3 separate regions of the Homo sapiens genome follow, and regions 1 and 3 are each linked to region 2. The links come from fine-mapping of genetic effects on gene expression. A gene starts in region 2. Each other region holds a variant in brackets. All regions are shown on one strand. Distances are between the middles of the regions.

What was found. PIP is the estimated chance that this variant, and not a neighbour inherited with it, causes the effect.
Region 1: its variant is fine-mapped to the expression of NCOA3 in whole blood (INTERVAL, PIP 0.95).
Region 3: its variant is fine-mapped to the expression of NCOA3 in Th2 cells (Schmiedel 2018, PIP 0.92).

What each region holds. Positions count from the first base shown.
Region 1 is chr20:47,407,773-47,415,955 of GRCh38, reverse strand. It overlaps LINC01754 (long intergenic non-protein coding RNA 1754), which reads left to right and starts at 3,812. Exons shown (of 3, transcript NR_146496.1): 1 at 3,812-3,886. RefSeq lists a silencer at 128-177 and enhancers at 1,219-1,268, 3,002-3,161, 5,359-5,548. The variant G/T (reference allele first, on the strand shown) is at 3,945.
Region 2 is chr20:47,497,294-47,505,476 of GRCh38, reverse strand. NCOA3 (nuclear receptor coactivator 3) reads right to left here and starts at 3,590. Exons shown (of 23, transcript NM_181659.3): 1 at 3,458-3,590. RefSeq lists a silencer at 3,231-3,350 and a cis regulatory region at 4,602-4,674.
Region 3 is chr20:47,542,580-47,550,746 of GRCh38, reverse strand. The region is part of intron 1 of NCOA3 (nuclear receptor coactivator 3); the gene reads right to left. Among named protein-coding and RNA genes, the nearest start is that of NCOA3, 45 kb to the right of the region's middle. The variant T/ATAT (reference allele first, on the strand shown) is at 3,343.

The DNA of each region.
Region 1 (8,183 bases), 90 kb after region 2:
GTGCAATGGCGCGATCTCGGCTCACCGCAACCTCCGCCTCCCAGGTTCAAGCAATTCTCCTGCCTCAGTCTCCCGAGTAGCTGGGATTACAGACGCACACCACCATGCCTGGCTAATTTTTGTATTTTTAGTAGAGACGGGGGTTTCACCATGTTAGCCAGGCTGGTCTCGAACCTGACCTCAGGTGATCCGCCCACCTCAGCCTCCCAAAGTGCTGGGATTACAGGCGTGAGCCACCACGCCCGGCCTTCTTGGGACTTTTCGGTTGTATGAGCCTAATACACTCTAAAGGCTTAGTCCAGTTCGAGTTGGGTTTCTGTCACTTGAAACTGAAAGAGTTCTGACTAACCCAGTCCGAGGCCGGAAAGGGCTTGGTGCAACTTGGAGGAAGTGAAAGAAGGCACAGAGACCAAGGGGAAGAGCGGTACCAGAAAACTGGCTACAGGCCAGGTCACGGAGGAACTTGTAGGCCACGATGAGCATTTTGGTTTTTAACTCAGTGAACTGGGCCTGGTCTGAAGCAGGAAAGTCACATGAAAATGGCTTCTTCAGGGACACGGGACATTGAAACATGTGGTTATTAGCTTATCAGAGCCAACAAACATTCTGGCTCCCAGTGTGTCAGGTTGAAATTCTGCTGCGAGGGGCACCAGCTGCTAGGATTTTTGTGTCCAAACACCTGCAGTGATCTTTCTTTGATTATGAGCTATCAGAAAACGGGCAGAATAATACAAAAGTATTTCGGGGATAATAGCTACAGGAAATTACTGATCCATTCCTGTTTTTTTGTTTTTGTTTTTGTTTTTGTTTTAAGAAAGGACAAAACTGTGTGTGTGTGTATTGATTATTGTGTTGATTGGACTATTACACCAAACTGGTAATTGCGATAGAAGAGTGGGCTTTCTTCTTTGTACACTTCTTTTTTTTTTTTTTTTGAGACAAAGTTTTGCTCTGTCACCCAGGCTGAAGTGCAGTGGTGTGATCTTGGCTCGCTGCAAGCTCCACCTCCCAGGTTCAAGCTATTCTCCTGCCTCAGCCTCCTGAGAAGCTGAGATTGTAAGTGTGTGCCACCATGCGTTGCTAATTTTTGTATTTTTATTAGAGACGGGGTTTCGCCATGTTGGTCAGGCTGGTCTTGAACTCCTGACCTCAGGTGATCCACCCGCCTTGGCCTCCCAAAGTGCTGGGATTACAGATGTGAGCCACTGTATCCGGCTGTCTGTTAAATTTTTTAAAACATATATCTTTTTCCCTTTCCATAATGTAGGTCCTATATTATAGAGCAGAGGTTAACAAACTTTCTCTGTAAAGGGTGCCAGAGAGTAAATATTTTAGGCTTTCTGGGCCATGCAGTCTCTGAATGACTCCATTCAGCTGGGGTACTGCAAAAGCAGCTACAGACATTATGTAAATGAATGAGTTTGCTGTGTTCCTGCAAAACTTTGTTTACAAAACAGGTGCCAGGCCAGGCAAGGTGGTTCATGCCCGTAATCCCAGCACTTTGGGAGGCCGAGGCGGGTGGATCATCTGAGGTCAGGAGTTCAAGACCAGCCTAGGCAACATGGTAAAACCCCGTCTCTACTAAAAATATAAAAATTAGCCGGGCATGGTGGGGCGTGCCTGTAGTCCCAGCTACTCGAGAGGCCGAGACAGGAGAATCACTTGAACCTGGGAGGCAGAGGTTGCAGTGAGCCAAGATCACACCACTGCACTCAAGCCTGGGCAACAGAGGGAGACTCCATCTAAAATAAATAAATAAATAAATAAATAAACAAACAAACAAACAAACAAACAAACAAAAACAAAAACAGGTGCCAGACTGGGTTTGGTTTTCTGTGGGCCTTGGTTTGCTGACCAGTGTTATAGAAAAGACAACATATAAGGATATATAAGGTGGCCGGGCATGGTGGCTCACACCTATAATCCCAGCACTTTGGGAGTCCAAGGTGGTGGATCGCTTGAACTCAGGAGTTCGAGACCAGCTTGGGCAACATGGTGAAACCCTCTCTCTACCAAAAATACAAAAAATTAGCCAGGCATGGTGGTGTATGCCTATGTTACCAACTACTCAGGAGGCTGAGGTGTGAGGTTGAGGTTATAGTGAGGGAGGTAGAGGCCGGGAAGGTAGAGGTTGCAGTGAGCTGAGTTTACACCACTGCACTCCAGCCTGAGTGACAGAGCGAGAACCCTGTCTCAAAACAAACAAGCAAACAAACAAACAAAGGATATATAATTTTATATTATAAGGATATATTTACCAAGATGTTTGTTGCAGTTTTTTGGGTTTGTTTTTTTTTTTTTGGAGACAGGATCTCTGTCTGTCTGTATGATTGATGGAGACCTGGTTTTTCCCATTCAGCAACTATTCGCCCCCCAAATCGTGACAACAGCACCCGATTTCCCTTCCCCACCTTCAGTCCCTGTGGAATGCATGGGGTGCCTCAACTGCCTCTGTTCAACAGGAGACACATGAGCCAGCATTGTGTTTGAGCTGGCTCGAACTAGCTCACTAGAGCTGATGGGACATGACAAGAGTTCTGTAAACCGGTTGACACTACATTGGTAATTGAAATCGGCTATGGTTTCAAGCTAATGGGGGTACTTACATCATAGAAATCAGGAAACACTACAAATCAAAACTTTTATTTTCTCAAAAAGACTATTGTTAGACATTTATCAACACACCACTGCGTTTAGCTCAGATCTGGTCAATCAGAGGGCCACAGCTTCCTGGCCGTAGAGCAGGACTGGGCACAGAACTCAAGCAAGACCATGAAAGTCAGCTCAGGTGTTAGAAAGGATGCTCTGTTCTACTGGGGCTCCTGGACTGGTAGGATTAAGCCCACAGTTGTGAGAAGCCACTAATAGAGGATATAAGGTGTAAGGAACTAAAAGATGGTGAAAGTTCAAGTCCTGTTGACATTATTTGAGGCCCTTGATTCAGCATTGCCTAAAACTAGAATGTCCCCTGTGCTACAAGCCAGTACATGTACTACATTCTCTTTCTAGCATATACTGCTGGTGCCCTATAGCAAATCCCCTTGGCCTGCTTCTGAGATTAGCTACAACTATGATGGACAGGCTGGCAGCTCCCACCTCACACACACATCTGTTTCTCTTCTTCTTCTTCTTCTTTTTTGAGAGAGTCTCACTCTGTCACCCAAGCTAAACTGTAGTGGCGTGATCTCAGCTCACTGCAACTTCCGCCTCCTGGGCTCAGGTGATCCTCCCACACTAGTCTCTTTTTTATTATTTTGAGATGGAGTCTCATTCTGTTGCATAGGCTGGAGGGCAGTGGGGTGATCTCGGCTCACTGACACCTCCACCTCCCAGGTTCAAGTGATTCTCCTAACTCAGCCTCCCAAGTAGCTGAGATTACAGGTGCAAGCCACCACGCCCAGCTAATTTTTGTATTTTTAGTAGAGATGGGGTTTTGCCATGTTGGCCAGCCTGGTCTTGAACTCCTGACCTCAAGTAATCCACTTGCCTCAGCCTCCCAAAGTGCTGGGTTTACAGGCATGAGCCACCGCATCTGACTGTTTTTCTTTTCTCTTGAGGCAAAGTCTTGCTCTGTTGCCCAGGCTGCTGGCAGTGGCATGATCACAGCTCACTGCAGCCTCAACCTCCTAGACTCGAGCAATTTTCTCACTTCAGCCTCCTGAGTTGCTGGGACCACAGGTGCACGCACCACCCCCTGGCTTTTATTTTTTTATTTTTTTTATTTTTTGGCAGAGACAGTGTCGCCTTATGTTGCCCAGGCTGAACACCTGTGTCTCTTAACCTAAGAGCTGTCTCCAGCACAGGATGCAAGACAGCCCCAAAAAAGTGTTAGGGACTTAAAGCCACCAGAAGCTTTTCTTAACCAATGGAATACAGGAGTCAATGGGTAAGTACCCCAGCTTCTCAGTTCCCTGGAGGGACAATTGTGATTTGGGGTTTTTTGG[G/T]TTTTTTTCCTACCTACATCAAAAAAGGAATGCAGAAAATATGTCCACCATATATTCTACAGCTCAGGGAATTTTTTTTTAAGACTGGATGAGGGCCAGGCGCGGTGGCTCACGCCTGTAATCCCAGCACTTTGGGAGGCCGAGGCGGGCGGATCACAAGGTCAGGAGATCAAGACCATCCTGGCTAACACGGTGAAACCCCGTCTCTACTAAAAAAAAATACAAAAAATTAGCCGGGTGTGGTGGTGGGTGCCTGTAGTCCTAGCTACTCGGGAGGTTGAGGCAAGAGAATGGCATGAACCCGGGAGGCAGAGCTTGCAGTGAGCTGAGATCACGCCACTGCACTCCAGCCTGGGCGACAGAGTGAGACTCCATCTCAAAAAAAAAAAAAAAAAAAAAAGACTGGATGAGGCTCTCTAACCCAGATGCATACCAGGTTTTGAGGCTCAGAGCTTAGTGAAACTAAGCCTTGTGTCCCACAAAATTCTGATGCTCATGCAAGAAATATCCAACTGGGGAGGATACTCTGTCCGTGGACTGATTTGCCCAGGCACAAATTCAGGCTGAAAATAGCAAACTAAAGTTAGCCGAGATGTTCTGCCTTGTGGCCTCCTTCAGGAACATCCTGTCCAGAGGAAAGGATATTTAAGGAGAAAGGAAGCAGCACAAGTTCGACTCAGCCAAGAAACAGAGGAAGGACATCCCAAGCACGAAGTGGGGCACCAGTCTGTGTTCCAGCGAGAGGTGGGGGATAAACAACCATGAAACATCTACTGTGTGTGTGTATTCATGTATTTTACAGATATTCTCTTCTCTCACTTTGTCCTTTATGTTTTTAATTTTCCTTAAACTTCTTGTTCTCTCTGTTCACTTACACATTGGTTTTTGTTTGTTTGTTTGTTTGTTTGTTTGTTTGTTTTGGGACGGAGTCTTGCTCTGTCGCCCAGGCTGAAGTGCAGTGGCATGATATCAGCTCACTGCAACCTCTGCCTCCGAGGTTCAAGTGATTCTTCTGCCTCAGCCTCTCAAGTAGCTGGGATTACAGGTGCCTGCCACTACACCTGGCCAATTTTTGTATTTTTAGTAGAGATGGGGTTTCACCATGTTGGCCAGGCTGTTCTCCAACTCCTGACCTCAAGTGATCCGCCCACCTTGGCCTCCCAAAGTGCTGGGATTACAGGCATGAGCCACTGCACCCAGCTTACTGATCTGATCGTGGAAGCACAGTTGGTCAGTGCATTTTGCTACAATGATTTGGGGTTTGTATTTGGAGACTCATTTGCAAGAAATATAGGCACATCCTAAACTAGCCTGAACAAAAAGTTTGGAGGACATCAGGTGAACCTGAACCCAGGGGCTCAACATGGCTGGTTTCCATTTCTCTATCATCTCTCGGTTCTTCTCCAAGTTGGCTTTCCTCTCCTGTAGCTTTGCCTACCTGCTGGTTCTGGGGTTATTTCTCACCAGCACAGCAACACCAATGGAAAGGGAAAATACCCCTGACAATAGTTCCAAGAACAAACTGAGGAGGGCTTCGTTGGCTCAGTCTGAGTTACCATAAGCCAATCACTTAGCCAGGAAGATATAATGTTTTTTGGGGTTTTTTTGGTGGGGAGACGGAGTTTCACTCTTGTTGCCCAGGCTGGAGTGCAGTGGCACAATCCCGGCTCACTGCAGCTTCCACCTCCCGGGTTCAAGTGATTATCCCATCTCAGCCACCAAGTAGCTGGGACTATGCCACCACACCCAGCTACTTTCTTTTTCTTTCTTTCTTTATCTTCTTTTTTTTTTTTGTATTTTTAGTAGAGATGGGGTTTCACCATGTTAGTCAGGCTGGTCTCAAACTCCTGACCTCAAATGATCCACCTGCCTCAGCCTCCCAAAGTGCTGGGATTACAGGCGTTGAGCCACAGCACCCGGCCAAACCATTTGAAAGTATACAATTCAGGCCGGGCACAGTGGCTCACACCTGTAATCCCAGCACTTTGGGAGGCCAAGGTGGGCAGATCACGAGGTCAGGAGACCAGCCTGACCAACATGGTGAAACCCCATCTCTACTAAAAATAACAAAAATTAGCTGGGCATGGTGGTGCATGTCTGTAATTCCAGCTACTCAGTAGGCTGAGGCAGGAGAATCGCTTGAAGGGAGGCGGAGGTTGCAGTGAGCTGAGATCATGAGACTGCACTCTAGCCTGGGTGACAGAGCGAGACTCAGTCTCAAAAATAAATAAATAAAATGAAATAAAGTATACAATTCAGTGGCCTTTTCTTTTTCTCAACAGTGAATTTTATTTATTTATTTATTTAGACAGAGGCGAGGTTTCCCTTTGTTGCCCAGGCTGCTCAAACTCCTGGCCTCAAGTGATCCTTCTGCCTCAGCCTCCCAAAGTGCTGGGATTATAGGCATGAGCCACTGCACCTGGCCTGTCCCAGTAATATTTGTTGAAATACAAAATTGATTTTCTTCAATGAATTACCCTGGTGACTTTGTTGAAGATAATTTGGCCATATATGTGTCAGTCTCAGCTGGGCTTTCTTTTTCTTTCTTTTTTTTTTTTTTTTGAGACGGAGTCTTGATCTGTCTCCCAGGCTGGAGTGCAGTGGCGCATCTCCACTCACTGCAAGCTCCACCTCCCAGGTTCACACCATTCTTCTGCCTCAGCCTCCCAAGTAGATGGGACTACAGGCGCCCGTCACCACGCCCGGCTAATTTTTTGTATTTTTTTAGTAGAGACAGGGTTTCACGGTGTTAGCCAGGATGGTCTCGATCTCCTGACCTTGTGATCCGCCCGCCTCGGCCTCCCAAAGTGCTAGGATTACAGGCGTGAGCCACCGCACCCAGCTAGCTGGACTTTCTATTCTCTTCCACTAACCTATTTGTCTATCCTTCTTTATTTTGTTTTTTTATTTTGAGATGTGGTCTTTCTCTGTTGCCCAGGCTGGAGTGCAGTGGTAGGATTATAGCACACTGCAGCCTTGACCTCTTGTGCTCAAGCAATCCTCCTGCCTCAGCCCCTCACGTAGCTGGGACCACAGGTACATGCCACCACACCCAGCTAATTTTTTGTAGAGATGGCATCTTGTTGTGCTACCCAAGCCGGTCTTGAACTCCTGGGCTCAAGCAATCCTCCCACCTCAGCCTCACAAAGTCCTGGGATTACAGGCATGAGCCATCATGCCCTACAAATCTTTCTGTTACCTTTTCAAATATGTAAATTGTCCATGGATACCCAATCATACAACACAATTGCCCTTGTTCATACAAGTATTTTCTGAGTCTAATTTGTGCCAGTCATTGGGCATACAGTGGTGCTCAGGACCCAGCACCTTCCCTGGCCTCATGGAGCTTGAGGTAGTAAACATCTGCTGGTTTTGCCTGCTCAAAATCCTCCCTGCTTCAAGCAACAACTTCCTCCTCTCCACTGGAAAGCCACTGCCCATCCACTCTCACCCCACGTGTTCAGAGAAGGCTGACCTCAACATTCCCTTCAAAAGGTGGATGCATAGGCCAGGTGCGGTGGCTCATGCCTGTGATCCCAGCACTTTGGGAGGCCGAGGCAGGTGAATCACCAGGTCAGGGGTTCAAGACCAGCCTGGCCAACATAGTGAAACCCTGTCTCTACTAAAAATACAAAAATTAGCCAGGCATGGTGGTGCACACCTGTAATCCCAGCTATTCAGGAGGGTGAGGCAGGAGAATCGCTTGAACCCAGGAGGTGGAGGTTGCAGTGAGCTGAGATCGTGCCATTGCACTCCAGCCTGGGCAACAGAGCGAGACTGTCTCAAAAACCAACAAACAAAAAAAGGTGGATGCATGATCCAGGTTTGGCGACATTTTTCTAGACCTGCCAGTAAGATGTAGTTTTCTATACTCTGGTTTTTGAAGTTGGGGAGCTACAGGGGGCACTATTGCCTGAGATTCTCCTCCTGAGAAGCCAACATGGAGGACATGAGGGTCTCCAGGGGGAGATCAACAAGTACTTACCCTGTGGCCATCATTCTGGCTGTGCCTGAAGCTCACGAGGCTCCTGGGATTTCCAATTCTATGAGTCAATAAATTTTGTTATAATTATAATTCTGTTTATCTTTTTACTTTTTTTTTTTTTTTGAGACTTTTTTTTGTCACCCAGGCTGAAGTGAGTGGTGCAATCTCCGTTCACTGCAACCTCCGCCTCCCGGGTTCAAGGGTTTCTCCCTGCCTCAGCCTCCCGAGTAGCTGGAACTACAGGCGCGTACCAC
Region 2 (8,183 bases):
AGACCAAAAGTCACTGGCGGCTAATATGCATTCTAAACTTGCAACAAATTAAAAGTTTTCAAAAGTACTCTACCTCCTCTGGCCAAAGTGTGAAATTATATAGTTTTTAAAAAATGCAGGCTGGCGTGATGGCTCACACCTGTAATCCCAGCACTTTGGGAGGCCAAGGCAGGTGGATTACCTGAGGTTGGGAGTTCGAGACCAGCCTGGCCAACATGGTAAACTTTGTCTCTACTAAAAATACAAAAATAGCCGGGCGTGGTGGTGCGCACCTGTAATCCCAGCTACTTGGGAGGCTGACACAGGAGAATTGCTTGAACCCAGGAGGCAGAGGTTGCAGTGAGCCAAGATCGCGCCGCTGCACTCCAGCCTGGGCAACAGAGCAAATTTCCTTCTCAAAAAAAAAAAAAAAGAAAGAAAAGAAAAAAAAAAAACGCCCCTGCCCGCAAAAAAAAAAAAAAAAAAAAAAAAAACCAAAAACCCAAAGCCATTTATTTTAACCATCAATTTGGGATAGGACAATAGCAGAGTTTTTAAATCTTACCCTATTGTCCAAACTAAAATTTATTTTTTAATTTTCTTTTAAAGACTTTTCAATTACAGTACTCCAAGTTAAAATGAATTATTCCAGAATCATACTGCTAATGCACAAGACAGAATTTTTTTTTTTTTTGAAACAGAGTCTCATTCTGTTGCCCAGGCTGGAGTGCAGTGGTGCAATCTCGGCTCACTGCAACCTCCGCCTCCCGGGTTCAAGCCATTCTTCTGCCTCAACCTCCTGAGTAGCTGGAACTACAGGTGCTCGCCACCACGCCCGGCTAATTTTTTGTATTTTTAGTAGTGAAGGGGTTTCACCATCTTTGCCAGGCTGTTCTCAAACTCCTGACCTCGTGATCCACCAGCCTTGGCTTCCCAAAGTGCTGGGATTACAGGCCTGAGCCACTGCAGCCCGGCAGAAAGAACTGAATTCGTTAAAAAAAAAAAAAAAAAAAAAAAAAGACACACTTAGCTTTTATCTTTAATGTAATGTCCCTGCAAGAAAGCTTATTTCAAAAGACCAGTCAAGAAGACATTAGTAAGCAACCATTTTTAAACTACTTTTTATTTGCATATCGCCTAGAAAAAGGGTCTCACGTACAACAGTACTTCACTCCTTACTGAATTCTATTTTATTTGCTCGGGAGGTGCGTGGCACTTTTTAGAAATAATTTTTATACAGAGAAGGAAATGCACAGCATAATCATTTTCAAAATACAGTTAAATTATTTAATATAATCTTTAATAACCTAGCTCTAATATCACTGAATTTCCTTAGCAAATTGTTAGTGTTGGCAAGCTGTTAAAACAACCATTCTAAAATATAAAAATATAAATCTCGCTATTGATGCTTAAGTTGTACATTTTCAAAGCCTTTGTAATTAAATATCTTATGGCAGAAATATTTCCTATAACTGCTCTAGAAATATTACAGCCTCCCGCTTAGTCCACAATCCCCATCTTCTATATGCCAAAAGCTGGTATATGCCTCTTATTTCAAATGCTGATTGGACAATTAAGTCATTTCCATCTATACATAAAATGCCCCTATAATTTAGGATCACAGGCAATTTAGATTTCTGCTCATTGAAATGCAGAACCTGAAGCAACCTCTAGTGACAGGAGCTATAGTGTTCAATATCATTTTACATGTTACAAGCAGAGGATTCATTGTACATACAAACAATGAACCCTGGCAGAGTTCTTTATCCTAAAGCCCCACAGATTGTTATTTAACGGTATTAATAGATAAGGTGACATAAGCAGTAAGTTCTGAAGAGCTTTTTCCAATAGCTATCAACATTTTTTTTAAGAGAGCAAAAACAGTATTCCCACATTTTCTGTTTCTTCTGTTCATTTTATTTCCCTGCTTTTGGTATCCAACAGAAGTGGTTTCAAATGAAAATCTTAAAATAATTATTCCAAAGACCAAGGATATTCTAAAAACCAGTAACAGTCTTTGCCTCTGAGAAGGGGAAACTGTAGGGTTTGGCGTGAAAGAGAGATTCACTTTTCAATGTGTTTGTACCTTTCCAATTGGATATCATTCGGTAGAACCATATTCTAAATGAGCATACATTTAAAATATTTTCAAGAACAAACAATTCACAAACTTACAGGTTTCCATTAACATTTTCGTTTGTGCAGCATTCGCTGAAGACCTAAGATTTTTATTCCTCCAATCACCTTCTCAACAACCTGCTGCAACAAATACTGAAGCTTTTTTGCAGCCAGGGATCAGTTAGGTGGATCCGAGGCCAGGCATTTAAATCAAAGAGATGCAGCAATCTTACTCAATACTACTACCACTCTCACGCATCTCATTCAACTCCATTTAAAACCACTGCAGCAAGACAGCTGGTACTCTCCTTCCTGTTTCTTTACCGTACAGGCTTAATAACAAAAACAGGTTGGTTTTGAAGCCCTGCTCAAATATTGCAAAAAGGAAGTCTTCGCATTCGGGAGGGGGAAAAAAGTTTCGACTTCGAGAGAATCTCATAGCTTCCGTGTCATTCCATTTGGGAATCCCAGATCCTGCCAGTGAGGTAGATGCTCGCTCTCTCGGTTAACTTTTCCACCCTAGATGCCCTCAAACTGCCTAGGAAGCAACTAAGTCTCCCAACGACCCATGGCTAGTTTTGTTAAGGCAGGTACAAGACAAGCAGTTTATTTAAACCATGACGAACTGGGTCGATGTTCATAAAATGAGAGATGGGGAGAGCAAAAAAAAAAAAAAAGTAGTAATAAAGACAGCCAAACTCCTAATTTTATCAACCAACTTCCCACTTGCCATTTCCCAGCCTTCACACCAGAGGTAGTAAAACGCCTTTTTACCGAGAAAACTAAGAAGCTACCCGAGCCCAACATGAAAATTCCGCGGACAATTCGTGTTAAAATATTTTTTAAATGCCCAAGTGAGGAGGAAACACAGCAACCAAATCTCACCCGGCTGGGAGGCTGGGGTGGGGGGGGTCCCCGCGGCTTTTCCCTCCCGTGCGTCCCAGAAGCTGCTAAGGAGCCGGGGCAGCAGGAGGACGACGCGGGGAGCTTTCAAAAGGGCTGGGGGAGGCAAGAGGAAGAAAAAACTTTAGGGACAGAAGGGGAAAGTGGGCCCCTGCAGTCCCCCCGCAAACTCCTCGGGTGACCCCTCCGCGCGGGGACCCCCTCGGATCCCCAAGCGGACTGCCACCCAGCTTCGTCTCAGCTCCTACCGCCGCGGGCCGCCCCCCGGGCTGAGGGGAAGCGGCGCGGCCCCGACACCCCGAAACTACCTCAGCGCGTCCCCCGGCCGGCGCGCCCCTCAGTGCCTTGGCAGATCTGAAGCCGCTGGCTCTCGCAGCCTGGGGAACTCGCCCCTCTTCCCTCCGCCTCGCACTCCACCCCCTCGCCCGCCACCGCCTCCTCCTTTATCTCCACTCACCTCCCGCCGCCATTTTCCTCGCAGCTCAGCTTTAAATCGGAAACTCGCCGCTCAGCCCGCAGCCGCCGCCGGCCGCCACCGACTAAGCCGCAGCCGCTGCCGTCGCTGTGGAGCGGCTGAGACAGCAGCAGCTAAAGTCGCCGCACGGGGGCCACTGGGATATGTAGTCCCGAGGCCACGCCCAGCACTACCGGTCCCAGGGGGCCTTGCGCGGCCGGCCTAGGGTTCCAGCGACCCCCACCCTGGCTTCCGCGGCGGAGGGCGTGGCGACGTGGGCTCGTGCGGCCGCTTTCGCCCAGCATCGACTGGGAGCTCCCTCGGGATCCGGAGAACCGGAATGCAGTCCTAGCCCTGCCCTTAATTTTTTTCATATTTGCCTTCGTCCAGTAATACCTAACATTTGTGGAGCGTTTCTGGTATGCCAAGCACGGATCCTCAAAACAAGCATCCGGTAGGGACCATGATCATCCTCATTTTTCAGATGAGCGAACTGAGGCACAAGGTCGGAAGCCACGAGGCTGTTCCTTAGCTGCTAAAGTCACTGGGTGAAATGTTGTTGGGCAGCAGTATATTCAGGGTATATTTAGTCCCGAAGTATCATCCCACAGCGTATTTATGACTTACAATAAAGAACAGCTTGCTTTACAATGGAAAGATCTGGCAGGCACCCCCTTACCAAGTGATCGAACTTAGCACCACCAATAATGGGTCAGGACTGTTGTTATGTGTCTCCTAATATGATGCAGTGGGGAAAGCATATTGCTACCTCTGTCGTATTCTTGCCACATACACACAAAAAGCTTACTTGAAAAAATAAACGAATTCAGAATGTGGGACATTCTACACAACATCTAGCCTGGAGTCTTTTAAAATATGACAGCATGAAAGAGGTGAAAACCAAAAGCAATAGGTGAGACTTGATTGGATTCAGGATGATTTTTTTATGTAAAAAGAATTTGGGGGGCAATTTCAATGTGGACTGTATGTTAGATAATATTGAGTCAGTATTAGATGTGTTGAGTGTAAATAAAATAGAATAATCTGACCACTTACCACCTCCACGGTCAGCACCATCATTTCCCACCTGGACCACTGCAACAGCCTCCTCAGTGTTCTGCCTGCTTCCACTCTTTCCTCTTAGAGTCTATACTCAACACAGCAGCCAGAGGAATCCTGGTAAGAACCAAGTCAGTCTCTGTCCCTCCTGCAAAATTCTTGCAGTAACCTGCAAAGCCCCATACAGCCCGTCTCTTGCCCTGCCCTTCCCTCTCTAAACTCATCACCTTCTTCTCTTCCACTCACTTCTGTAACTCAGCTACAATGGACTCGGCCTCTCCAACGTGCTTAGCACACTCTGGCCTTAAAGATCGTGCACTTGCTATTTCCTCTGCCTAGAACAGTATTTTCCCAGAAAATTCAAATAACCCATTCCCTAATCTCCCCATGGTCATTGTCCAAATGTCACTTATTCAGTGAGGCTTTCCCTAACTGCTCTATTTTAACTTCCTGCCCACTCTGATCCCAGCTTTCCCTACTCCTATTCCTTTCTTCATTTATTTTCAGAGCATGAATTATCATTAAAATCATGATATATTTCTGTTTACTTATGTTATTTAAAATATCTCATTTTGGCTGGGCGCGGTGACTCACGAATGTAATCCCAGCACTTTGGGAGGCCAAGGCAGGCAGATCACCTGAGGTCGGGAGTTCAAGACCAGCCTGACCAATATGGAGAAACCCCGTCACTACTAAAAATACATAATTAGCTGGGCATGGTAGCACATGCCTGTAATCCGAGCTACTCAGGAGGCTGAGGCAGGAGAATCACTTGAACCTGGGGGCAGAGGTTGCGGTGAGCCGAGATGGCACCATTGCACTCCAACCTGGGCAACAAGAGTGAAACTCCGTCTCAAAAAAAAAAAAAGTAAAAATTAAAAAATTAAATATCTCATTTCTGGGCCGGGCACGGTGGCTCACACCTGTAATCCCAACACTTTGGGAGGCCAAGGTGGGCAGATCACCTGAGGTCAGAAGTTCCAGACCAGCCTGCCCAACATGGCGAAACCCCGTCTCTACTAAAAATACAAAAGATTAGCTGGGCATGGTGGCAGGCGCCTATAATCCTGGCTACTCGGGAGGCTGAGGCAGGAGAATCACTTGAACCCGGGAGGCAGAGGTTGCAGTGAGCCGAGATCGCGCCACTGCACTCCAGCCTGGGCCACAAGAGCGAAACTCTGTCTCAAAAAAATATATATATATATATTTCCACCAGGGCACAGTGGCTCAGGCCTGTAATCCCAACACTTTGGAAGGCCGAGAGATTGCTTGAGCCCAGGAGTTCAAGACCAGCCTTGGCAACAAAGCAGATACCCAGTCTCTACAAAAAATTTTAAAATTAGCTTGGTGTGGTGGCGCCTGCTTGTATTCCCAAGTACTCAGGAGGCTGAGGTGGGAGGATTGCCTGAGTAGGGGAGGTCAAGGCTGCAGTGAGCCATGCTTGCACCACTGCACTCCAGCCTGGGCGACAGAGTGAGACTCCATTTCAAATATATATATATATAAAATAAAAATAATAAAATAAAATACTGCGTTAGATGCTGAGAACCCAGAGATGAAATGCTCACACGTGTATGGCCTTTCACCTCAGCAACTGCACCTGTCTCCTAGCTACTCTCCTTGCTTCTCTCCCTTTCATCCTCTACAGGGCACTCCCAATACAGTAGCCAGAGGGATCCTTGAAAAATCATGTATTAAATCATGTTACTTCCAACCTAGGCCGGGTACGGTGGCTCACGCCTGTAATTCCAGCACTTTGGGAGGGCAAAGCAGGCAGATCACTTGAGGTCAGGGTTTTGAGGCCAGCCTGACCAATATAGTGAAACCCTGTCTCTACTAAAAATACAAAATTAGCTGGGCATGGTGGCACACACCTGTAGTCCTAGCAACTTGGGAGGCTGAAGCAGGAGAATCTCTTGAACCCAGGAGGCAGAGGTTGCAGTAAGCCAAGATCATGCCACTGCACTCCAGCCAGGGCAACAAGAGCGTAACTCCATCTCAAAAACAAAACAAAACAAAACAAAACAAAAAACTTCCAACCTAAACAGCTTCGAATGGCATCCCATTGCATTTGGGATAAAACTCAGACCCTAGTTGGGTGTGGTGGCCCACGCTTCTAGTCCTAGCTACTCAGAAAGCTGAGGTGAGAGGATTGCTTGAGCCCGGAAGTTCGAGGCTGCAGTGAGCCGTAATTGTGCCAGTGCACTCCAACCTGGGTGACAGAGGGAGACCCTGACTCCATTTAAGAAAACAAACTACTCTGACCCTAATTGATTTGGTCTCTGCTCCCCTCCCTGATCTCAGGTGATATATCTCTCCCTATATCTCACCCCATGTCACACTAACATTCCTGAACACACCAAGCATATTCCTGCCTCAGGACCTGTGCACCTGTTGTTCCTTTTGCCTAGAATTTTCTTTCCTCCTGGCTTGCTCTCTATTGCCATTCAAGTCTCTGCTGCAATGTCTCCTTCTCGGATAGAACTTCTAAAGCACTAAACACACACACAGGCACAAACACAGTCATATCACCCTGCTTTGTCTTCACAATGATTCATACCATACACCATCTGAATTTTTTTAGAAATTTTTTTTTTTTAGATGGAGTTTCACTCTTGTTGCCCAGACTGGAGTGCAATGGCGTGATCTCGGCTCACCACAACCTCCGACTCCCGGGTTCAAGTGATTCTCCTGCCTCAGCCTCCTGAGTAGCTGGGATTACAGGCACATGCCACCATGCCCAGCTAATTTTTTGCATTTTTAGTAGGGACGGGGTTTCTCCATGTTGAAATGCAGTGGCACAATCATGGCTCACTGTAACCTCAAACTTCTGGCTCAGCTGAATTTTTTTGAGACAGAGCCTTGCTCTGTTGCCCCGGCTGGGGTGTAGTGGTGTGATCTCAGCTCACTGCAATCTCCGCCTCCTGAGTTCAAGGGCTTCCTCTGCCTCAGCCTCCCGAGTAGCTGGGATTACAGGCACGTGCCACCACACTTGGCTAATTTTTGTATTTTTAGTAGAGATGGGGTGTTACCATGTTGGCCAAGCTGGTCTTGTATTCCTGACCTCAAGTAATCCAACCTCCTTGGCCTCTCAACATGCTGGGATTTACAGGCGTGTGCCACTGCGCCTGGCAAACATTGGCAGAGTTTGATGGAACCTGTAGGTGATCTTGTAGTGAGTGACATGTGGAAACACTGCTCTAGACTCAAAATCTAAGCCAAATGAGTGACACACTCTACAAGATAGTCTGTGTAGGTGCCCACTATCATTCTTTCCTGCTGTTTGCACAGGCCACTCCTACATCGAAAGGTAGGCTTTATTTCCTCTTCCTTGAACTGGAGTTGACTCTGTAACTGTTTGACCAATGGAAATAGTGGAAGTGATGTCATGGGACTTTCAAGTCTAGGCTTTAAGATGATTGGGGTGGCTCATGCCTGTAATCCCAGCACTTTGGGAGGCTGAGGCAGGTGGATCACCTGAGGTCAGGAGTTCGAGACCAGCCTGGCCAACATGGTGAAACCGCGTCTCTACTAAAAGTACAAAAATTAGCCAGGCGCCGTGGCACATGCCTGTAAACCCAGCTACTCTGGAGGCTGAGGAAGGAGAATCGCTTGAACCTGGGAGGCGGAGGTTGCAGTGAGCCAAGATTGTGCCACTGCACTCCAGCCC
Region 3 (8,167 bases), 45 kb before region 2:
AAGTAGATTAAATACATGGAAGGAGTTATGTGAAAGCGATGTCATTCAATTCTTTCAGTATAATCTTAATTACATGATAAGAGTCTCAGTGAACTACCATCAAAAATTATGTTTTCATGATCTCTCAGAGAGCAATTTGATTAACTTCCACCTCAATTCTGATGAAAACACACTTAGAAACCAACTAATAGGTCGTTTGTTAATCAGTCATTGAGAGTCATTCACTTGTTAAACTCTGACACCAGTATTTCTAATTGCCCATGTGTTTCAAACCCCCCCACCTTTTTTTTTTTTTTTTTTCTGAGACGGAGTTTTGCTCTTGTTGCCCAGGCTGGAGTGCAATGGCACGATCTCAGCTCACAGCAACCTCTGCCTCCCGGATTCAAGCAATTCTCCTGCCTCAGCCTCCCGAGTAGCTGAGATTACAGGCATGTGCCTCCATGCCCGACTAATTTTGTATTTTTAGTAGAGATGGGGTTTCTCCATGTTGGTCAGGTTGGTCTCAAACTCCCAACCTCAGGTCATTTGCCCACCTCGGCCTCCCAAAGTGCCGGGATTACAGGTGTGAGCCACCGCGCCTGGACTTCAAACCCTTTTAAAAAAAAAAAAAAATTGAAATACAACACAGTAAAACGGGAGACTTCTTACTTCTTTTGGCAGTTAGAAGAATAATTGTAAAAAGAGACATCTGGAGAATAAGGCTCTGCAAGCTTTCTCAGGCCAACTTAAAAAGTTAAAAGAACAGCCAGCACAGTGGCTCACGCCTGTAATCCCAGCACTCTGGGAGGCCCAGGTAGGCAGACTGCTTGAGCTCAGGAGTTTGAGACCAGCCTAAGCAACATGGTGAAATCATGTCTCTACAAAAAATTACAAAAATTAGCCAGGCATGGTGGTGGCGTGCGCCTGTAGTCCCAGCTATTTAAGAAGCTAAGGTGGGAGGATTTCTTGAGCCTGGGAGGTAGAGGCTGCAATAAGCCTTGATTGTGCCACTACACTCCAGCCTGGTGACAGAGGAAGACTCTGTCCCCAAAAAAGAGAAGAAAGAAGAAGAATTTAAGAGAACAAAGGTTTGTGAATCTGCAAACCTGGAAACTGATCTCATTAAATCATCTGTGCTCAAGCCTCTAGATCCAACCACCACCAATTTATACAAAATACAGAAGACTTTTTTTTTTTTTTTTTTTTTGAGACAGAGTCTTCGCTCTGTTGCCCAGGATGGAGTGCAGCAGACAGATCATAGTTTGCTGTAGCCTCAACCTCCTGGTCTCAAGTGATTGCCATGTCTCAGCCTTCCGGGTAGCTGGGACCGCAGGTACCTGTCATCCTGTGCCCAGATAAATTTTTTTTTAACCACATCATGCCCAGCTAATTTTTTTTTTTAATTTTTTGTCAATCTGGGGTCTTGCCATGTTGCCCAGGCTGGCCTCAAACTCCTGGGCTTAAGTGATCCTCTCACCTCAGCCTCCCAATGTGCTGGCATTACAGGCAAGAGCTGCTGCACCAGGCCTAAAAACTTTTTTATTACAAAGTTAATACATGTTCTCCATAGGTGATACAAAATTAAGGATAGTTAAGTCCATGATGGCTCAGGACTGTAATCTAACACTTTTGGAGGCTGAGGTGGGAGGATCACTTGAGCCCAAGAGCTCGAGACCACCCTAGGCAACGTGGTGAGACCCCCATCTCTACAAAAAATTTAAAAAATGTTTTAAATACAGTTTTTACATCTTTGAAGTTTATGCATTACATCCAATCCAAACCAAGAAAACACTAATTTAACAAATGTTCTCAATAATAATAATTCACTATTAATTTTTAAAATTCATTAAATGGTATTTTTAGGAGACCCTTTAAAATGCTATTGATTTTATCATATTCACCAAATGAAGACCTCACAGATATTATTTCACATCTTGTGCCTAACAGCAGTACGCAGAACAGAGTGGCCCTTCTTGGGGAGACTACACAGTAAACCATCATGACATAATTAATCCTTTCTAGATTACTGCAACTCTACTGATTTGCTGAAACAGAATAAAAACATTGAGAAGGCATAATATACATGCACACTTTTTTAAAAGCATTTCTCAATTGCATGTTAATGTCTATCGACATGTACCACCCCTTCTTCTCAAACTGCCACTGAAAATGCAGTAAAAAAGATTTTTTTTTAATTTTTATTTTTATTTTATTTTATTTTTTGAGATGGAGTTTCACTCTTGCCACCCAGGCTGGAGTGCAGTGGCATGATCTCAGCTCACTCCAACCTCTGCCTCCCAGGTTCAAGTGATTCTCCTGCCTCAGCCTCCCGAGTAGCTGAGATTACAGGCGCCTGCCACCATGCCCAGCTAATTTTTTGTATTTTTAGTAGAGACGGGGTTTCGCCATGTTGGGCTGGCTGGTCTGGAACTCCTGACCTCAGGTGATCTGCCTGCCTCAACCTCCCAAAGTGCTGGGATTACAGGTGTGGGCCACCGCACCTGGCCTAGAATGAATTTTTTTTTTTTAAAGGAACCTTTTTTTATTAGGCTTAGAGAGTAAGAAAACAAATAAGAAATTCTCTTATATATATGACAGGTGGTAACTCACAATTCCTCTATATTAACAAATCACCCTAACTTTATTTAACCAATTTCAGAGTCAACTTCCATCTTAAATGGATTTCTAGAAACAGTTCCAGCCTAAAGAGACGGGAAGCTAAAATAAAACCAACAAAGGCTGAGCATGGTGGCTCACACCTATAATCCCAGCACTTTGGGAGGTCGAGGCAGGTGGATAACCTGAGGTCAGGAGTTCAAGACCAGCCTGGCCAACTTGGTAAACCCCATCTTTATTAAAAATAAAAATAAAATAAAATAAAATAATTAGCAGGGGGTGGTGGCAGGCGCCTGTAATCCTAGCTACTCGGGAGGCTAAGGCACGACAATCGCTTGAACCCAGGAGGTGGAGGTTGCAGTGAGCTGAGATCATGCCACTGCACTTCAGTCTGGGTGACAGAGCGACACTCCATCTCAAAAAATAACAAAACGGGCCGGGCGCGGTGGCTCATGCCTGTAATCCCAGCACTTTGGGAGGCCGAGGCGGGTGGATCACGAGGTCAGGAGATCGAGACTATCCTGGCTAATGTGGTGAAACCCTGTCTCTACTAAAAACACACACACAAAAAATTAGTCGGGCATGGTGATGGGCGCCTGTAGTCCCAGCTACTCAGGAGGCTGAGGCAGGAGAATGGTGTGAACCCGGGAGGTGGAGCTTGCAGTAAGCCGAGATCGCACCACTGCACTCTAGCCTGGGTGGCAGAGCGAGACTCCGTCTAAAATAATAATAATAATAATAATAATA[T/ATAT]AAAAATAAAATAAAATCAACAAAAACTAGGAACTTTCCTAAAGTACTCCCACCACAGGGTTTAAAGAGAAACGATATGCTGTGACCCAGAAAAACATCTTAACGCCACAGATGGGGTAAGAGAAGGGCTTTAGGACGTCACCCTTTCAAGGAAATACAGAGTGTGTTTATTCACTCGACAAATGAATGATGAACATCTACCATATGCCAGACACCTACCTAAGTGTTTGAGATATGTCAGTGAGCAATGGGGACTAGGATTCTTGTTCTTGTGGAGCATATGCTTTATAATTAAACACAATAAATAAGTAAAGTATTAATATATTAGAGCATTAGTGCTATAAGGTCAGAGGTTCCGGTATTAAATAGGGTGGTAAGGGTGGGCCTCATTAAGAGTGTAAGAATTGAGACTTTAAAGAGATGAGGAACTTAATCAGACATATGACAGAAACATTCCAAGAAAGGGCATACCCAAAGGCAAGAATGTGCCTGCACTGGATGAAGAACGGTACTGGATCAAGAATGAACAAGGAAGACAGGAATGATAGGTGAGATCAGAGATGTAACAGAGGCAGGCCGGTAGCGGTGGCTCATGCCTGTAACCTCAGCACTTTGGGAGGCCAGGGCGGGAAGATCACCTGAGTTAGGGAGTTCAAGACCAGCCTGACCAACATGGAGAAACCCCATCTCTACTAAAAATACAAAATTAGCTGGGCGTGGTAGCACATGCCTGTAATCCCAGCAACTCGAGAGGCTGAGGCAGAAGAATCACTTGAATGCGGGAGGCGGAGGTTGCAGTGAGCCAAGACTGCGCCACTGCACTTCAGCCTAGGCAACAAGAGGGAAATTCGGTCTTAAAAAAAAAAAAAAAAAAAAACAGAGGCAAGTCACAGAGTCTCATTGAAACAAAGTAAGAACTTTCATTTCTACTCCGGGTGAAATAAGAAACCTCTACATAGTCTAGAAGAGAGGAATGACAAACCGGTTTAGGATTGTAAAAGATCCCTCCAGCTGTTACGTTACTAACAGGATACAAGGAAACAAGAGTAAAATGCAGGAAGACTTATTAGGATGTTATTACAATAACTCACAGAAAATGTTGGTTCAATGGAATTACTGAGATGTGGCCAGACACTACATATATCTTAAAAATAGCAAGGAGATAAAAGAGTAGTCAAGGTTTTTAAGCCTAAGCAACAGCAAGAATGAATTACCAACAATGAGAAAGAAAAGGCTTTAGTGAAGATCTTACAGGGAAAATGATGAGATTGGTTTGGGACATGTTGAGTTTCAGTTGTCCATTAGAAATCTAAATGAAAAGGTTCAGAGGACAGTTGGATATACAAGTGAGGAAACAAAAGAGAGGTTTATCTCACATAAACAATATACAGGCCTGGCACAGTGGCTCATGCCTGTAATCCCAACACTTTGGAAGGTTGAGGTGGGAGGATCACTTGAGCTCAGGAGTTCTAGACCAGCCTGGGCAACATGGCAAAACCCCATCACTATAAAAAATACAAAAATTAACCAGGCATGATGGCATGCCCCTATAGTCCTAGCTATTCAGGATGCTGAGGCAGGAGGATCGCTTGAGCCCAGGAGGTGGAGGTTGCAATGAGCCATGATCACACCACTGCACTTCAGCCTAGGCGACAGACCGAGACCGTGTCTCCATATATATATCACAAAGATGATCCAATATATGTATAGTAGGAATCCCAAAGAAGAAAACCAAGGCAGTAAGACAAAAAAAACAAAAAGCAAATAAAAAAAAAACAGCACTAAGAAAACCTTCATGATATTGAGAAAAACAGAGACAAAAAAAGAAGAGGGGAAGGAAGCTTGAAACTATTAATACATATTGAAAAGACTCACTGAATGCCCAAGGAAAAATGTGTCAGACCAACCAACACCAATAAGATTACAAAGGCCAGGCGCAGTGGCTCACGCCAGTAATCCCAGCACTTTGGGAGGCCAAAGCAGGTGGATCACCTGAGGTCAGGAATTCGAGATCAGCCTAGACAACATGGCAAAACCCTATCTCTACTAAAAATACAAAAATTAGCTGGGCGTGGTAGTACATGCCTGTAGTTCCAGCTACTAGGGAGGCTGAGGCAGGAGAATCCCTTGAACCCGGAAGACAGAGGTTGCAGTGAGCCGAGATCCTGTCACTGCACTCTAGCCTGGGCAACAAAGTGAGACTCTTTCTCAAAAAAAAAAAAAAAAAAAATCCTATGGATATCTAAACAATTACAAAAAAAAAAAAAAAGCTACATTGCTCAAAGAAAAACAGGTCGACATCATCATACTGTAACAGCTATGCTCTGTGCCAGAAGACAGTGGAATGACATATTTCAGATACTGTGGAACAGAATTTTATCATCACCAAGCCAGCTTTTAACTATTAAAGCTGCAGACAAACTTCTCAAACATAGGGGAACACAAGGAATACTGTTCCCATAAGCTCTTCCTGAGGAATTTATTAGAGAAAATGAATTCCAGATGACCCAAATAACTGGAAAGTCCATATCAACATAAAAATGGTAGTGGGCATTAAATATATATTTATCTGTAAAAACCTGAATGAGGGTTCTAAGTGACACTTTATACTACATAATGACTATATGTTCCAACATTGTAGCTAGAGCACAACTATCCATAAACTGAAGTATGAAGAGATAAAAACTGGAAAAAAAACTGGCTGATTACCTGATATCAACTGAAAGAAAAAGATATTACTTTAAATCAAATGCTTGGGAAGAAAAAGAAGTTACTAGGTAATTTCAATAGTATTCAAAGTAAGAAACCAACAGAAAATAACCAAAAAATTGGGGGGGCACTAAGTCTATTACATAAGGATTTTAATATAAAGGCAACATCTAAAACAAAATACAAACTTCATAAATTTTTTTAAATACCCACAACAATTAGTCAGGCATGCTGACACATGCCTGTGGTCCCAGCTACACAGAAGGACCGCTTAAACCCAGGAGGTTGAGGCTGCAGTGAACCATGTCAGCACAACTGCATTCCAGCCTGGGTGACAGTGAGACCCTGCGTTTAAGGGAAAAAAAAAAAAAAAAAAAAAGTAGTATTAAATAAAAGACAAATAAAGATACATTATCATGAACATCCATCCTACACCTAACTGAAAAAAAAAAACTTGAACAAAATAAACCCCAAAAAAACAAAAGGGAGAGATTAATAAAGAATAGGATTGGATCCTGGAACAGAAAAAAACACAAGAGTGGAAATTTGACAATATCTGCTACTTAGTTAACAGTATTATACCAGTGTTAGCCTTAGTTTTGATCACTATAACATGGCTATGCAAGTTATTAAATTGGGGGAATCGGGGTGGAGTACACAGGAAAACTCTACTATTTTTGCAACATTCCCAAAAGTCTAAAATTATTTCAAAATAGTTTTTTTTTAAACTTTGAGAAAAAAAATGTTTTTTACCACAGGAGAATACTAGTAAACCAACTTGTTATTTTAAATACTAGTAAATAGAGTCTAACATATATCACATCTTTCCTATGTAAACTGTACCCACACCAGGTGACCAAATACTTGATTAGAAAAAGCTTTTCTTGGCTGGGCACAGTGGCTCACGCCTGTAATCCCAGCTCCCTGGGAGGACAAGGCAGGTGGATCACCTGAGGTCAGGAATTCGAGACCAGCCTGGCCAACATGGTGAAACCCCGTCTACACTAAAAGCACAAAACTGAGCCAGGCGTGGTGGTGCGCACCAGTAGTCCCAGCTACTCGGGAGGCTGAGGCAGGAGAATCACTTGAACCCAGGAGGTGGAGGTTGCGGTGAGCCGAGATCCCACCATTGCACTCCAGCCTGGGCAACAGAGCAAGACTCTCTCCAAAGGAAAAAAAAAAAAGAAGAAGAAGAAAGAAAGAAAAAGTTTTTCTTTATAGTATCTGCTAATATTAACAACTCAAAGAAAAACAGACGTCATGTGTCTTCTGATAAACCACACTCCCTGGGAAGTAGTCTCACTGTAGTAGCCAGCACCAAGATGACATCCCCAGTGACACCCATCTCTAGGTATTCATGAACTTAAGCAGTCCCCTCCCATACTGTATCAAAGTTGGTCTATGTGACCAAAAGAAAAGTGACAAGCTGTCACTTCTGAGGTCACAAAGGCATTTCAAATTCCCTCCTCCTTTTCTCCTTCTCTCTGATCACTAGCTCTGGCAGTAGCTTTAGGACACTCAGGCAGAAACTGAGACCTCCCACCAATGGTCACTGAGTAAGCCACCTCGGAAGCAAATCCTCCAGCCTTTGTTAAACCTTCAGATGACTGCAACCCATTAAGAGTACTAAAACCACAACTCCCCAGCTAGGCTACTCCCAGAGTCCTAACCTTCAGAAACTGTGGAAGATAATAAATACTAAGGAGTTTGGGAGGTTTATTTTGCTTTGTTTTGAAACAGAGTCTTGCTGTCACCCAGACTGGAGTACAGTGGTGTGTTCTCAGCCAACTGCAACCTCCACGTCCCAGCTCAAGACATCCTCCCTCCTGCCTCAGCCTCCCAAGTAGCTGGGACAACAGGTATGTGCCACCATGCCCGGATAATTTTTGTATTGTTTGTATAGATGGGGTTTCGCCATGTTGCCCAGGCTGGTCTCAAACTCCGGGGCTCAAATGATCCACCCGCCTGGGCTTCCCAAAGCGCTGGGACTATAGGCATGAGCCACCATGCCTGGCCAATTTTTAGAGAGAGGGTCTTGCCTAGGAATTGCCTATTCACAGGTGCAATCACAGCTCACTGCAGCCTCAAACTTCCAGGCTTAAGCAGTCCTCCCACC